Homo sapiens: one gene and its partner. The protein of the gene in region 2 interacts with the protein of the main gene of each other region in a pairwise test. Each region holds a gene or a part of one and is shown on either strand. Other genes may lie near its edges. The genes, in order: PRRC2A and P4HA2.

Region 1 (8,120 bases), on a different chromosome or scaffold from region 2:
AAGCAGATTTATCCAGCTGAGCTCAGCCCAAATTCCAGACTCACAAAAATTTAAAGATCCAATACGATGGTCATGTTTTTAGTTTCAACAGCTCACTGGAATAAGTAATGAATATTTCCCTGACTGAAACTACAGATCACTCAGCACCATGCTTTAAGACAATGCAAACAACTCATCCCCCAAATCATTGTAGAAGTTTTTTTTTTTAAATCCTTTTATTACTCTTTTTTAACAAACAGCCCCAGGGACAGGGGACCAGGGGAAGGGGGAGGAGGGGAAGTGAGGCCCCAGCCCCAGAACCCCTCCCCGCCCACCCCTTTCCCCCTTATATATTTATAATCTATATACAAGCCCCGGGGGTAGGGGGCAAGAGGAACTCCCTCAGCGGGGTGGGGGCAACCCAGGCTCCTTGTCCCCTCGGGACCCAGGCTCCTCTGCCCGTCGGGAGGGCCCTTCTCGAGGTGGCGGCCCTGTCCGCTCCCAAGGCTTAGGTATCCAGCGCAGGGCATCTGGTGGGGAGGCCTAGGGGACAGGCATGTGTTAAACAGTGAGTCACAGTGAGAGGTCAGCGATGAGACGGAAGGACAGGAAATCAGGTGGCAACTCGAATTTAGAGTTGGGGCCACAAGGGTTTCTCCTTCACCTGCTGGTAAAGGTCGACGCGCTGGGTGCGGAAGACTCCACTGTAGGTGGAAGGCGTGGCCTTGAGACGGGAATTGAGGCCAGAGAAGGACCTAAGGGAAGAAGGGCGTCTAAGGCAAGCCTAGGATCCAGACCCTGGTTCCAAAGTAAGGAAGCACTTGGAAAGTCCACATCCCTATTCCGTTTCACCTTCCAGTTGGGGGAGTCCGTGATGATCCAGGTCCCCCAAGGTTGCTGCTCAGTTTTTGATAATCCTGGAACGGCTTTAGTTCCACTGGATGCAGCTGAGGGGAAAAAAATCATGAGCTGCCTACCTTGAAATACAGAATCCCTACTCCCAAGTCTTGGCGCTCCCTAGCCCCTCAGTTCCTGTACCTTACCTCTGCTCGCCCCAAGCTAGCGGGGAAGGGCCTGGCAGGTGAAGGCAGCACCCGAGTAGCAGGAGCAGGTGGGGGCCGCACAGCCAGGCTGGGGGGCTGCAGAGCAGGGCCCACAGGTAACAGAGAAAGGGGAGGTGGGGCAGGAGGTGGTGCTGGCGGCAGGGAGCCAAAGTTCACCACAGGCAGCTGTGAGTCTACCATGGGTAGAAGCATCTGTAACAAGAAATTTGGGTGTGCATGTTGGGGGCAGGGAGGAATGTCAGAAAACCAGGGAAAATCAAAGCCAGCAACTGGACAGAGAAATCAAATGAAGGGGAAGTGTGAAGATACAATATACCTGCTGGGCAGGAGCCCCTGAAGGGAGAAAGCCACTTTGGCCACCAGGCTGCAGAGGAGTAGAATAAAAATCCGAAGGGGATGGCAGATCCTGGCGTACCTGTCGGGAAACAGGGAGAAATATATCAACCCCCACAAAATCATTCTCCCTACCCTATCCCCCAATATCTAATACCTGCCCCCCTCTTACCTGAAGCAACGATGTGTCAGGCAAAGGACTGGGGCAGAAAGCCGGAGAGTAGAGGAAGGAAGGTGGAGGGTAGAGAACTCCTCCAGCCGGCAACTTCCCCAGCTCTGTAGCTTGCATTGTGGAGAAATCCAGAAACTGGCCCTTGAGAGCTAACCCAGAGAGCAGTGCTGAGGGAGGGGCTGGGCCGGGGGGTAGGTATAGGGGCTGTGATCTGAAAATAAATTGTGGGGAGAAAAGCTGTTAGGAAGCCAGAGTCCTAGCAATGCCTTAAGTCCACTAGCTTCTAGTACCCTAGAACTGTGTCTTCCCCTTCCCTCTCCCCGAAACACATCTCCAAGTACTTCTGTGATCCACAGGCATCGAGTCTTACCTGTAAGGGTGCAGTGAGGGTGTCCCAGGGCGGAAGCCTCCACTGTTTGGATGTAATTGAGAGTCCATGGCTCCCCCAGAGATCTGCAGGAGAGGAGCACGGTTGAAACAGCTTTAGTATCTGTGGTCAAGAAAAAAGATCACCATCCCACCCATAGAAGCAAAAAGTAGGGAGAAAAATGATGTGACAAAGTGGTATCTCACAACTCTGCAACGTAGAAAGGCTTGATTATAAATACATACCAGGCAGAAAAAAATTATTATTCACTGAAGGGGTCATGCAATGGGAAGCGGGGCCTACCTGAGAACTGGAAGGCCCAGCACTGCCATAGAAAACCTCAGGATACAGGCGCTGGCCTGAGGAGCTGGGCTCCGGGACACAGTGCCCAGAATCCAGGTTCTTGGATTGTGGCTCAGCAGAGGCAGCAGCACTGGGAAGCAGCTCCCAGTCTCGTGATACAGGAATGGCCTGGGAAGGAGAGGCCTCGTGGAGAGGGATGTCTGGCATCCTGGACGCCCTGGTCACTCCCAGCAATCTTCCCCAGAAATCTTGGGCCTTTCCACCAAACTCTTACTCCCACTTACCTCAGTGACTGATGCTGTTAGCTCCTTCTCTGCTTTCAAGCTGTCTCCTACCACTAGGCGTAAGTCTGAGTCCTGTGATCACAAGAAGGCAGGAGACATTGTCCCGTGACAGACATGTGTCCTCTATGTCCCACCTTTAGTCCTTCCCTTCTCTCCACCCAACTCAGGATACCCAGATCCAGCCCACACAGACCTTGTCACTAGTGCCAAACTGGACTGGGGGACCAGGTCGATGGGATGGCCGAATGGGGCCAGGCTCTGTGCCTCGGTCTGTACGCTGTGATCGTTCTGTGCCAATGGGGCCAGGGGGCAGAGGCTGCTCCCGGGGCAGCTCCTGGATTGGGCACACAGTAAAGTGCATTGGGGGAGGGAAAGGGAAATCCAAATTGGAATGCCCAGAACACACACGCAGAGAGAAAAAGCAGAAAAAGGTAGGGCCAAAGTCAGATTCCTGGAAACATTCCCCTTATCCTTTTTTGGTCTTTTACCTTTCTGTCCCCATCGTGGGGGGCAGGTGGTGGTCTCCTAGGAGGTTCAGAGCCAGGTGGACCCTCACAAGGAACAGCATTCAGGGGTGAGGAGCCTCCAGGCCTCTTGGGGGGTCCCTCTGCTGCCCCCTTGAGTCCTCCATCAGGGGAACTTCGCTGGCTGCAGGGACCTGATGACACCTGAGAATCCCCACTCAGGTCCACCCCACTGTCAGACTGACTCATCTGAGAGGAGTGGAGAAGGAGCTAGTTAAGTCAGGGTAGAAAGCACCCCAATACCTGACTGATGCACACATACAAACTGCAGAAAGGGGACAGCCAAGTGAGAGAACAGCTCCAGACTCAACCCAGAGCAGGTGGGGGGTATGACCAGTGCTCAAAAAAGTCCCAGCTCAGACACACCCTCCCACCCTCACTCACTTCTGTGCCAGCCACATCCTCAAAAGGACTCAGGGGCTCCATCCAAGGCTCCATGGAGCTGGGCCGGTAACTCTTTCGGCTAGTGGCTGGAGAAGGGAGCACCAACCAGAAGAGAAGTGAGGAGATGACAGTTCAGAAGCCCCTCTCATTCTTAACCCTTCTACCATAGTCCTTTCACTCAGCTTTACTCACCAGTATGTAAACGGTTCCAGATGTGAGGGGTCAGGGCCTCTGTGCCTGTATCTCTGGACTCTGCCTGAGGGCCTGGGCCCTCAGGCTTAGAGCCCAAGAATCCAGAGCTATGAGGAGGTGGCAAAGATTCCTACAGATGAGAAGGGCCAGAAGCAAAACATGAATTGGGTGGGAATTGGGAATTATAGGAAGCCAGGACAGAGTGGGGTGACACAGGGTGTGGGGACAACAAGGGAGACACATGGGAGACTAATACTGAGAATTCTGGAGTAAAAACACAGTGAAAGAAACAGGAAAGAAAACAGAGAAAACATAACCCAGAAGAATTTTCACGAGTAAGAGTGCAGTGAAGCACAATCTCAAACCCATCCCTTACCTCCTGTAGCAGCTCTGGTTTTCTGGGAGGCCGCTCCCGACGTTTAGGGGGAAAGGGACTAACCCCGGCAGAGTCCCGAGGAGTCCCACCCACCCCTCTCACCATTGGCCCCGGCTCCTCAAAGTGGGGGTCTGGGAAAGAGAAAAAGGGTCAGCATCTGCCTGGCTCTGCCACTGACCCTAACTTTTCCTCTCTACTCCACCTCCCAATTCTTCTACCCTTGCTCCCTGCAGAAACGCACCCAGCAGCAGGGTCCCTAGGCCAGGTTCTCCACCCGCTCCCTCCAGCACTTGACCTTCTCTGGGGATGGAGATATTCCCACCCATAACCCCTCCAGCTTACCAGAACTGAGGCCGCTGTTGACCCTCTGGGGCTCGTATCGGGTTGGGGGCCTAGGAGAGGGGCCCTGAGGGGCTTGGGGAAGCCCAGGCTTGTGCCTTGGATGACCCCCTGGTGCAGTTACACTCCCTTGACGGCTACTAAGCTGGGCCAGAGCCTGTTGGATGCCAGCAGGGTTGCTGTGGATAACTTGGTCCAGGCGGAAGACAGCAGAACTGCTGGGAGGTGGGGGAGGCAGGGGAAGCCCCGGGGGACGCTCCTCTGGAGGACGACTGGAGAAAACAGAGCATTAGCTCCAGTATCCACTAAATCGTTACTTTTTCCCACAAGTTATGTTTCCCAACTTCTGCTTACAACCTATTCTCTTCCCTATTAAAGTCCAGGTGTTTTTGAGTCCTTCTAAGGATTCCTATGCATACAGATGCACAGACTGGAAAGCAAAGAACCAGCAATGAATACATAGGTGGGTGTTCTTGACTCTAACACCCTACCAACCGCTTTCCAGTTGCCTTAGCCAGACATGGAAATCCTACTGACATTCTAGAGCCCATGGCCCCTCAGGCCACAATCTCCACTCCACCCAAACTTATCTTTCCCTCAGGCTTTTTCCCCCTCCTCCAATTTTTAAACCACAATAAATTTGTTTGTTCCTACCCACCTTCGGTTCTTGGGAGAGGGCCAGCTCCTCTTGTCGCCTCGTCCTGGCCCGGTCCTTCCTCCAGGACCCCCACCGCCTCCTCCACTGCTGCTGCCACTGCTGCCAGCCTTGCCCCCTGGGCCAGGGCGCCGATTCTGCCGTTCCATGCCTGGCCGCTGACTTGAGAAGCTCCGTTTACTCAAATCCTTGGCTCTCTGGCTCAGATCTCCGCGGGACATGGCTGAAATACCTGGTACGGCTCCACCTCCACCTCCCCCAGGAGTTCCCACAGCCTTGGGTGTCAGCAGTACTGGTGGGGGTGCCTCTTTGTCCCCTCGGCGCTCACTGGTGAAGTCACTGCTCTCTGATGCAGTCTCCCATTCCTCATTGGCTTGGTCTGAGTTCTGGTTTGACAGATCAGGAGACTTGGCAGCTGCCCGGCGAGGTGCTGGGGCCACTGTGACTGTTGTGAGGGCCTCCTCAGGTCCAGGAGCGGAGGCTGGAAGGGTTAGGGAGGGCTTGCCCTCAGACCCCCTTGCGGCATTCTCCCGTTCCTGCTTCAGCCTCCGGAAACGAGGCGGTTTATCCTGCTGCTGAGCCCTCCCATGTCGCCTCCTTCGGGGTCGCTCCCCATCTTCCATGCCCACATTGCTACCTCCATTGCTGCCTCCGCGCGCCACAGGGGACAGAGGCCCTGGGATCAACTTCTCTTTCAAAGGCTCCTTACTTGGTGGCAAAGGGCCTGTGGGAGGTTTCTTGGGAGCCAGAGACTTGGCTGGAGGGCTCCAGCCTGGGCAAACTTGAGGAGGGGGCCTCCCTCCTCCTCGGCCCCGGCGAGATGGCACCCCTCTGGGAGTGAAGACTCGCCCACCCCGGGCAGTGAAGCGGGCTGGGGCTGGTGAAGGTGGGGCTCCTGGTGGTGGGGGAGCGAGAGGGACCTGGGTGAGTGTTCCCTCCTTGGGTGTGGGAGCCTCCTTGTCTGAAGGAGCCAGATCACTCTCATGGGTCTCGCTGCCTGTTTCTGAGCCCCGCTGCCGGCGCCGCTTGGGGATTTCCTCATACTCTGAACCCTCGCTCCGTGTCTCGCTGGCAGTGCGGCCTCGGGGAGCAGGAGGGTGGTTTGGTCCCCCTGTCCCACCTCCACGCCCATCATCTCCTCGAAACTCTCGGTAACTGCGGAATTCCCGGCTTCGGGCTCCCCGCCCTCGTCCCCCATAGGTCCCCCGAAAACCCCTCCCTCTGGCAAAATACTCGCCTCGGCCCCGACCCCGGCAAGAGGTAGGACCCACTCTTTCATACGAATAGTCCCTCCGAAGCCTTGGGGCAGGGGAAAGATTTCCATTGGGTGGGGTCTCCTTGGGGCCCCCTAGCTTCCCCTTGGTTATCTTGAGTGGGTCTGGCTTTGGGGGTTTGGGGGTTTCATCCCCCTGTTCGAGGGGCTTGGGAGGCAGCTCTTCTACTTTTGTAGGTGGTGGAGGTTTCTTTATAGGCCCAGCCCGGCGGGGTGGGGCCCCTGGCTCCTCTGGAGGGATTCCACGACGACTGCTCCCTGGACGAGGGCCCCAGCGGGTCTCTGTGCGACTCTCTCTGCGTGGTGGTGGGGGGCCCTGGCCTCCACTCCCGACTCCGCGGGCAGGCTTTCGGCCTGCTTCTGGCCCCGTCAGCTGTGCAGTCTCCTCCTTAGGGGGCTCCTTCTTGGGTGGTGGAGTTTGTATCTTGGCCACTTCATCACTGCCTGGGGGCCAGGGGAGTGGACGGGGCCCTGGTTCCTCCAGAGGAAAGCGAGAGATTGGGGGCCCAGGGGCTCCATTCTCAGGAAAGCCTGGATAACTGGCCAGATAGGGTGGTGGGGGAGGTACTGGAGGAGTCTCGCTCCTGAAGAGACAGACAGAAAGAATGGAAATAAGTATCTCAGGAAAACCAGAACTAGGTGGGAAAAGAACACTTTATTATGATGCAGACTCTCTTTTACTATTTTTCTGTTTGTTTTGGCAGAGATGGCATCCAGTTGCCGAGGCTAGTCTCGAACTGCTGGGCTCAAGCAATCTTCTTGCCTCAGCCTCCCAAAATGCTGGGATTACAGGCATGAGCCACTCCATCCAGCCTCTCCTTTCCCGTTCATCCCTATCCCTACCACTAACCCAAAGTACCTTTCTCCCAGGCCTAGATCCTTTCACTGTGAACTCACCCATTTCTCATGACCAAGACTCACCTCATCCCCTTGTCATCCTCATCCGCAGCCTGGCGCAGAGGTGAGGTAAGTGGGCGGGGTTCAGCGGGTGTGGCGGTGAAGACATCTCCTACCCAGGCCAACTTTGGATCCACCGGTGGAGTGCCCCGTTCCCGTAACATAGCAGGTGCATGACGGTCAAATGGCTCTGAGCTTGAGCCCCCACTGTCTGAACGCTCTCGGGGAACTAGGCCTGAAGAAACCAAAGAAAAAGAAAAATAATCCTATTCATGTCACAAGCCCTCCAGCCCAAAAAGCATCTCCCCTCGCGGTCAAGTCAGCTCTTCCATCTCTTGTTCCCAGTAGGTCCGGGCCTTGCCTGCTCTTATATAACAAGGTTATCCACTCAGATTCCCTACAAGAGAATCAACCCACCCCAAATAAATCCTGGCAAATGAAGGACCACTGCTTCTTTCATTCATTCATTCATTTTTGAGATGGAGTTGTGCTATTCATTCATTCATTTTTGAGACGGAGTTTCGCTCGTTGCCTAAGCTGGAGTGCGATGGCACAATCTCGGCTCACTACAACCTCCACCTCCTGGGTTCAAGCGTTTCTCCTGCCTCAGTCTCCCGAGTAGCTGGGACTACAGGCGAGCGCCACCACGCCGGCTACTTTTTTGTATTTTTAGTAGAAATGGGGTTTTACCACGTTAGCCATGGTGGTCTCGAACTCCTGAACTCAGTTGATCTGCCCACCTCGGCCTCCCTAAGTGCTGGGATTACAGGCGTGAGCCACAATGCCTGGCCAACCACTGCTTATTTCTTAACTAAGCCCATTTTTGCAACAGAGCTATCTCAGCAGTGCCAAGCATATGCCCTTCCCTCATCACTATGATGGGCAAAACCTATCGTACCAGAGTCACAGTAAGACCCTAATATCCAATGCCTAAGACTGAGGGGACTTTCCTGTTTCTCACTCCTCCCATGCCCCCTT
Region 2 (8,120 bases):
GCCCCAGCCCTGAACCAAATTCCCTAAACCCTCAAATAAACTCCACACTCTGACTCCCTCACTGTGGAAATACTTAGGTAAAACAATTCTTGTCTCTTGCTGTCCATTTTGAGGATTGCTGCAGCCCACTCTGCAAGTTCCCTAATAAATGCTGTGGACTGAAGACCCAGGGGTTTAGTGCCGCTTTCTTTGAATTCTCAACTGACCCCATCTTGGCAGTCCCTCATGGGAAGTCCCCTGCTGCTGCTTTTGGAGCAACTTCAGTTGTGGTTCAGCAGGAGAAAACACACAGAATACTTTGACCTTCAAATGTATTTGATTATGACACAGAACCATGGCCTCTGAAGTCATTTTTAGCTCTCTTAGAGATGTCCCTGAGACCATTCAGGATTTGAGCTTCTGTTGTCAAGAAGACATGAACGAACCTACCATAACTACCCCTGATCCCTAGCTTGCAGCACACTTGGGCACACAGCAGATGCTCAATAGATATTTGTTGAACACTAATTGTTGAAAGCCAGCAGGCATGATTAATTCTGGTTTCCTAAAATGAGATCACTCCATATTCATAGCATCAGGCAGTAGTCATACAGTTGGGCCTCTTGGCCCAGTTCTGGACACCCTGTGAGACCATCTAGCCACAAATACCCACTTCCCAACTCCTACAGTCCCAGGTACTATCTGTACCTGTAACAATTCTGCAGTCTTTACTGTTAACCCTGTGATATGCTGCATCCGACGATTTACTCGGGCCACAACAGGGTCATCATCTTCCTCTAGCCAGGAGCTGGGCAAAAAGAAAAGGGCAGAGAAAAGAAGACGGAAGGGCAGGCTTCCATGAGGTCCTGAACTCTGTCCCCAGAGTCAGGGCCAGCATGAACAGGCAGTACAGGATGCCTGCTGCAAGGGGGTGAGGAGGTGCCAGCAGGCAGGAAAAGGCAAGCCACCCATCCCTAGGGTAGGCACTGAGAAGTCCTGAAGTTGGGGCTTGAGCAGCTACGAACCCCTGCTCTTTGCTTACCTTTTGGAAACCCGGTAGCTGGCGACAGTGAGGACTCCTGTCTTGGGATCACGAACGGTGGCTCGTGCAAGCTAGAAGGAAGGAGGAGAGGGAAGACTTGATTTGTTTGTTTGTTTGTTTTGCCTTGAATATTTTCCCAGAGAGCACTGGGACCAGATTTACTGCCATGCTAGTGGAGGAAGCTTTGCAGCCAATGGCTCTAGCCAAGGCCCCAAGATCCTGCAGGCCAGTTGAGGGCAAGAGTCTGAGGCCTCCACATTCCCAATCCGCAATCAGTTCCTGGCTATTGCCCTGCTCGGTCACTGCTCATCCCTTCTCCTCCCCAGGTCCGCTTTGCCTGCAGAATTATGCCTGCCTTGTCTACCCATGCATCTGCCTGACTAGCCCCTTTCCTTGCCAGGCCCACATACCACCCCTGCCTGAGCACAGCCTGCCTGAGCTTAGCTACTCCCACCATTTTCAGACTGTGCCACCATGCCTGAGCCTCCGCCTTATGTACTTCTCTCAATTGAGTCAAGTTCCACCATCCTTCCGAACCTCAGTGGGCTCCTCTGCCAAGAAACCCATCCAAACACTCTCCTGCTGCACCACCTCACACTGGGTTCCCACAGCCTCAAGAAGCAAAGACAGATGGCACAGTTTTCGCTCCCTTGGGATCCTTACAAGTCAGATGATAAAACCAGGAAAAGATTCTGTAAGTTAAAATAAGTGAACCACTGCCTGGAAGCCACCCACTCATACAGGTACACACTACACATGCACTCCCTGCATCTACTTCATCTCCCCCAGCCTCCACAGTTAGGCTTAGTGAAACCCCAAGGGGGACTCGCCGCCCAGAGCCAGCCAACATGGCAAAGGTCCATGTGCTTCAGCTGTGGACTGTCCTCATGACCTCACATGGGTGGGGCCATAGGCCCAGGTACTCCCACCCCAACACACTTCCCCTTGATTTCAATAAATATTGATGAGTGCCTACTTTGTGCCTGGCACTATGCTAGGTAACTGAGACATGGCCCCTGCACTCTTACAACTCAGTCAAGTGGGGAAAGCAGAAAACCAGTCAGGTAACTGCAGCACAGCATGGGTGAACTTACCATCCTGTGGAAGCTCAGGGTATAGTGTCAAGAATAGCTTCCTAGGGGAGGAGACCACCTAGCTGAGGCCTGAAGGGTTAACATGAGTTATCCAAGTAGAGGAACATTACAGGAACAGGGAAAGAGCAGCAATCCAGAGGCCTGGGAATGAAAATGGGTGTTGCAGTAGGTGTGGATTAAAGGTTATGGGAAGTAGTAAGAGAGAACAGGCTGAAGAGACAAGCAGGGGCTAGGAACTAGATGCAACCTTGTGGCCAACGAGAAATGGGGAAGGCTTTATGCAGGGGAGGGACACTCAAAATGTGAATGTAAAATGGATCACTGTGAATACCTCATGGAGAGTTGACTAATGAGGGGCCAGAGTGGGGACTGGGAGGCTAGTGAGGCCACGACAGAGGTCAGGGCAAGAGATGATGGTGGCCCGGGCCAGGTGGTGGCAGAAGGGATGGAGAGGAGTAGATGGACCAGAAGGCTAGTAAGGGGGTGAGATGGACCAACTTGGACACTGTGCTGCTATGGCATGATCTGGTAAGATGGCCAGCACAAGCAGGACAGACGGCTCCCAAGCTCCTACTCATGGCCCTTCCTGAGCTTCAGCTCATGTCAGTCCCTCCCTGAAAACTGCAGCCACAGCCAGACCCCATCCAAACATCTGTGCCTCAGCATTGGCCTGACACCCACAAAGAGGCTCTGAGCAGCTGTGCTCTGCCCCAGGGGAAGCACAGGGCTATTTTGAAAGCAGGCCAGAGACCCCACAGACAGCTGCCAGGCATTCCCCACAGGCCAAGTTAAGCTCATTGGCTCTACTTCAAAGCCAGAATAGCATCTGTCCCTCACAGTCTCCGGAAAGGAGGGGTCAGCTTATCTTTGAATAGAAGCCATGTTAAGAGCCAAACATGTTTGCCAACCTTGTTTGGCTCTTTGCATGGCTTCTATTCAAATATATCTTTTCCTAACACTACCCTCTGGCCAGCCACACACATGTGTACACATATGCACACATGCACAGAGAAATGTTCTCAGTGTCTGGAACTGAAGAACGGGTAAGAAATCTCTCAGGAAATCCTGGCACAACCAACAAAGTAGTTTTCTTTCCTGGAGGACTCTGGAGCTGAGTAGAAAGGGGAGTCCTAGTCCCCATTCTCCATATATCTGGCTAGCCCCCTTCCTCAGCCACATCGATGATGCCAACCACTGACTCAAAGCCCTAGATGTCCTAGTACCTCAAGCCAAAGCTGTTCCAAGATGAGGTCCAGGGGCCAGGATAGGAACCTATTTCAGGTCTCTCCATGAGTGTCGGGCCTCCTGGTCACCTCGGCCCCTACAATTCTATTAGGAGCAGAGCAATAGAGAATCGAGCTAAATCCTCCCTCCCAATCATCAGTGATGGGATATGGCAGCAAATAGGTCTCTTTGAAAGATGTCAAATGGGGAACAAATCTTTTATGAACTAGAAACAGAAGAATAATTTTAAAACATGGCATATATACAAAACCAACAGCCAACTGCATTCTTAGCAGTAAAATACCATAGGAATTTCCAGGAAATTCAGGAATGAGACAAGGATGCCTATTCTACGTAATTATGCTCTAGAAGTTCTGGGCAATTCAATAAGGTTATAAAAACAAAGGAACTACAAGTATCAGGAGAAAATAAAATTTTCCTTATTTCCAGGTGTTAATGCTATCCAGGCAACCAAAGAGAAATCAGCTAAAAACCAAAAAAGAAATAAGTAAATTCAACCACTAGCTGCAATCTGTATGAGTTTGCTTTTTCATAGGTAAAACAGAGACAGTGACATCATTATGAGCAGCTGTTCATAACTGTGACATAACACTTAATATATATGTTAAGCACTTAGAAGTTCCTGCCACAGTTAAGAATTCAGTAAACATTAGCTCTTACTATGAAATGTATTTGTAAAATCAATAGTTTGGCATATAATAGTAAACTAATAAAATAATGTAACCAGTTAAAAATAATAATGAAGAAATAAAGTAAATTAACAGTAACAAAGAAACTACCAAGGAATAAACTTAAGAAATGTTCAAGGCTTATATGAAGAAAACTTAAAAAGATATGGAGAGACCTGTCATGCCCTTGGATGAGAAGACCCAATATTATAAAGATATACATTCTCCTCTAAGTCATTCACCTCATTTACAGTCCTAATCAGGAGCTCCACAGGACCCAGCTTCATAGCATCCTATGGAACATTTCCAAAAAACTCACCCACGCACCAGTCTCCCAACCAGGTGAACTGACACACCAGTGTAGACCTGCCCTGTTCCCAGCGTGACCTTCTATGATAGCACTTGGCTGTCCACATTGGTTACCCTGTTCTTCTTCCACTGGACCATGAACTCACAAGGTCAGGCTGAGTCTGAAGCATCTCTGTATCCCCACGGTAGGCCCATGCTAGATATGGATAAAGGGTGGCTAGATGGGCAAACCAACCACCCATAGTGCTAGGGATGAGAAAAAGGACCTTCCCCCTTCAGTGACCCGAGAAGGACCTACAGTGACACCTACTTTAGGTTTTGCGATCTCCTTGATCCTCTCGATTTCCTCATCAGACATGACATCGTAGTACCTGACGATGTGCGGGCTGTCCCACTCGTCCTCCTCTTTGAAGGGGGCAATGAGCAGCTGTGGGGCCCTGTTGCCATGGTGGTACCTACAGAAAAGCCTCTTCTGTCTACGGGGTGTCTGGAAAGCACAGAGTAACAGGCCCTGAGCTGAGTGAGTCCTAATCCTCGGTCCCAGTCTGGCTGTCTGCAGACACTGGACTCACCTCATGGCCAGCAGCTGCTCCCTCCCACCACACCACAGAAGAAAACAAAAGTCCCAGCAGGTGGGCATGCACAGTGGCTCATGCCTGTAATCCGAGAACTCTGGGGGGCCAAAGGATAGCTTGAGACCAGGAGTTTGGGACCAGCCTAGATGACATAGACCTGTCTCTAAAAAATTAGCCAGGCATGATGGTGCATACCTGTAGTCCCAGCTACTCAGGAGACTGAGGCAGGAGGATTGCTCAAGGCTGGGAGGTCAAAGCTGCAGTGAGCTATGATTATACCACTGCACACCAGCCTGGGCGACAGGGTGAGACGAAAGAAAGAAAAGAAAAGGAAAAAGAGGAAACAGGAAAAAGAGAAGAAAAAGGAAGGAAGAAAGGAAGGGAGGGAGGGAGGGGAGGAGAGAGGAGGAGAAGGGGGAGGGGAGGGGGAGGGGAGGGGGAGGGGAGGGGGGGAGGGGAGGAGAGGGGGGAATGGGGGGAGGGGAGAGGAGAGGAGAGCCCCTTCAGCTTAACTGGCATGAAATAACACCCCACAAATCATGCAATTTTTCTTCTCTCCCAAAATCACCTCACATCCTCAAGTCCCATGGCAGAAAGTAATTCCTGACCCTTTTCGTGAAGACTTGAGTAGGTCTGAAGGGCTGGGACAGGGGAGAAACCTTTCTTGGTGGAGGAGCCAGTAGAAGCCATGCAGACAGGGGCATGGAAAAGGCTCAGAGCCTGTCACACCTGGGCCTCCTCAGGAAGCACTAGGATCCCAGGGCTCTCAAAGGCTCGATACCAAGCTCTAGTACACGCTGGTGTCTTTACCACAGAGACTTACTCTCCACTTATACCATGACTTCTTTTGGGGCCTGAGGTACGTCCACCCATTGTTTTCTTCCCAACAGTGAGTGAAGCAAAAAGTGGGACATATTGGGGTAAGGAGGCGAGCTCACTGGTAACTTAGAGGAGCAACACTCTACCTGGGGCACGAGGGGAGAGAGTCTCCTTTCCTACACCTCAGAGAATATCCACATGTCAGCCTCAGGAGATGCCATGAAAAACTGGGGGATATACTGAGAAAAGTACCTACAGAATAAAGAACACCTTCCCCAAATCTGCCTGCCCAGAGCCAGAGTCCAGGTCCACAGCTTTGGCACCCTAGCCCCCTCACACATCTCACCAGTTTGACACCCTCCCCACGACAGAGGCTCTCGTAAACATCCCTCTCAGGCAGGTAGTCCACAGGCCTCTCATAGATGCCTTCTGGGGTTGCTAGCTCAGCTTCTGTCTGATTTGTTAACGTTTTTTCTCTCTCTTCCTCCAATAACTGCTCAAAGTACCGCAGATTCCCTCCAGCTCGTTCGTGGCTTGGGTCTAGAAAATGCAAGGAATGAGAAGGAAAAGGAAACCACAAACATCTGTTAGGTCATTTAGAGAAATTATTCTGTAAGGGTTTCTCTCCCAGCAGCTCACCTGCATGCTGCATTCTACCTTCCACAGCATCTAACCAGAGTACGCTGGTCGTAACTGGAAAACCAACAGAGGCCAGGTGCGGTGGCTCATACCTGCAATCCCAGCACTTTGGGAGGCCGAGGCGGGTGGATCACGTGAGGTCACGAGTTCGAGACCAGCCTGACCAACATGGTAAAACCTCATCTCTACTAAAGAAAATACAACATGGGGCATGTGCCTCTGTAATCCCAGCCACCTGGGAGGCTGAGGCAGGAAAATCTCATCAACCCGGGAGGCGGAGGTTACAGTGAGCTGAGATCGTGCCACTGCTCTCCAGGCTGGATGAGTGAGACTCTGTCTCAAAAAAAAAAAAAAAAAAAGGTAGATGAGTTTTAAAGGCACAGTGCTTTTGGCCTTCTTCAGTCCAACAGCACAAGGCACACAAAGTATCAATGCCATATGAAGTCCTACTATTAGACCTCAGGCCTCTAATAGCACCGCTACTGTTTGTCACTGTAACAATCCTAAAGTACAACCTGACTCCTGAGCTGCTCCTGATGTAGTAAAGGTTCCACCCTGTGTAGTCCTGCATGGTGACAGATACACCATAACAGAGTCCTTATTAAAAAGGCCCACAAGTGCCACAGGCCTGAGCGTATCTATCAGCGACTGCGCAAACCTAAGGCCAGGATTGAGGTGGGTAAGGAGCTAGTAAGAAGCTGGACTGGTCCTAAAGTCAGTAAGGCATTAGTCACTGGCCAAGTGACAGGGTAAACTGACTCAGTCCCAGGAGAGGGGTCAGGCAGATGCCAGCACAGTGCAGTTCCTCTGCCACTCTCCATTCCCATCTTACCTTCCCCTAGAATCTCCTTACCAAGGGAGAGCAGGCGGCGGGTGAGCTCCAGGGCACGGTGCAGATCACCCAACTGGAAGACAGCATAGCTGAGGTAGTCCAGCACCTGTGACTTGGTTGTGGTGGCCTCCTCCCCGGCATCAAGCTGCTTTAGCACCTGCTCCATCCACAACACCGTATGATAATAGTCCCCTTCATTGTAGGCCGAGCGGCCCATCCCAAAGCAGTCATCCACACTCAGCATTGCCTGGTACTTGGTTCCTACAGCAGGGGAAGTAAATTGTCAGGCTCCAAAGAGCCTCTGGATTAGGGAAAGAGATTCCCACTTCAAGGAAAGCCTGAGCCACTGGATAGGGGGCATCACCAAGCAGAACTCCATCGGACATTTAGACTGCATATCCTAAAGGGCCACTGACACAGTGAGCACAGACAGATGGCCCAGCCCTGCCCTGGACTGGGGTTCACAGCCACCTCTTAGCCTCAGATTCCCCATCTCCCAAGTGGGAAGGGGCCTTTTTAGGGGGAGCCCCAGAAACCCACCAGGAAGCATTGTTGAGGACAGTGGGAAGGTCCTGTGGACCACAGAGAAGAAGATGTCTGGTGGGCAGTTTGCCATATGAGTCTAGAGGATGGAAAAATTAGCTGAATATAAAAAACATAAATTTAGGTGGCAACCAAGCCATGGGTGAGGAAAATAGCTTGCAGGAACTCTGAGGAAAGAATGGAGAAGATGACTAAGGCCAGAGCTCCAGGGAGCACCTACCCAGAAAGAACAGACAATGAATAACCCTGAGAATGAACTAAAGATAGGAGAAACAGAGGGAGCGGGAGTGGTGTGAGAGACACCAAGGGAGGCCAAGAGCCAAGGTTGCAGTGCCAGCTTTGGCTGTTAAGTGGCAGGGACCTTGCTGAGTATCA

The links.
Region 1: the proteins of P4HA2 (region 2) and PRRC2A interact in a two-hybrid assay, tested with the Homo sapiens proteins (one study listed by BioGRID and IntAct).

The regions. Positions count from the first base shown.
Region 1 is NC_000006.12:31,629,848-31,637,967, reverse strand, and holds the end of PRRC2A (protein PRRC2A), read right to left. Parts: intron 7,378-8,120; coding exon 7,167-7,377; intron 6,830-7,166; coding exon 4,976-6,829; intron 4,590-4,975; coding exon 4,321-4,589; intron 4,182-4,320; exon of another isoform or gene 4,110-4,181; coding exon 3,979-4,109; intron 3,733-3,978; coding exon 3,603-3,732; intron 3,497-3,602; coding exon 3,411-3,496; intron 3,216-3,410; coding exon 2,991-3,215; intron 2,837-2,990; coding exon 2,696-2,836; intron 2,575-2,695; coding exon 2,503-2,574; intron 2,387-2,502; coding exon 2,219-2,386; intron 2,002-2,218; coding exon 1,919-2,001; intron 1,760-1,918; coding exon 1,549-1,759; intron 1,459-1,548; coding exon 1,360-1,458; intron 1,236-1,359; coding exon 1,023-1,235; intron 927-1,022; coding exon 832-926; intron 735-831; coding exon 644-734; intron 523-643; coding exon 382-522; 3' UTR 197-381; downstream 1-196. UniProt on the Homo sapiens protein: May play a role in the regulation of pre-mRNA splicing.
Region 2 is NC_000005.10:132,203,061-132,211,180, forward strand, and holds part of P4HA2 (prolyl 4-hydroxylase subunit alpha-2 isoform 2 precursor), read right to left. Parts: intron 7,464-8,120; coding exon 7,224-7,463; intron 6,272-7,223; coding exon 6,078-6,271; intron 4,825-6,077; coding exon 4,648-4,824; intron 1,093-4,647; coding exon 1,022-1,092; intron 788-1,021; coding exon 688-787; intron 1-687. UniProt on the Homo sapiens protein: Catalyzes the post-translational formation of 4-hydroxyproline in -Xaa-Pro-Gly- sequences in collagens and other proteins.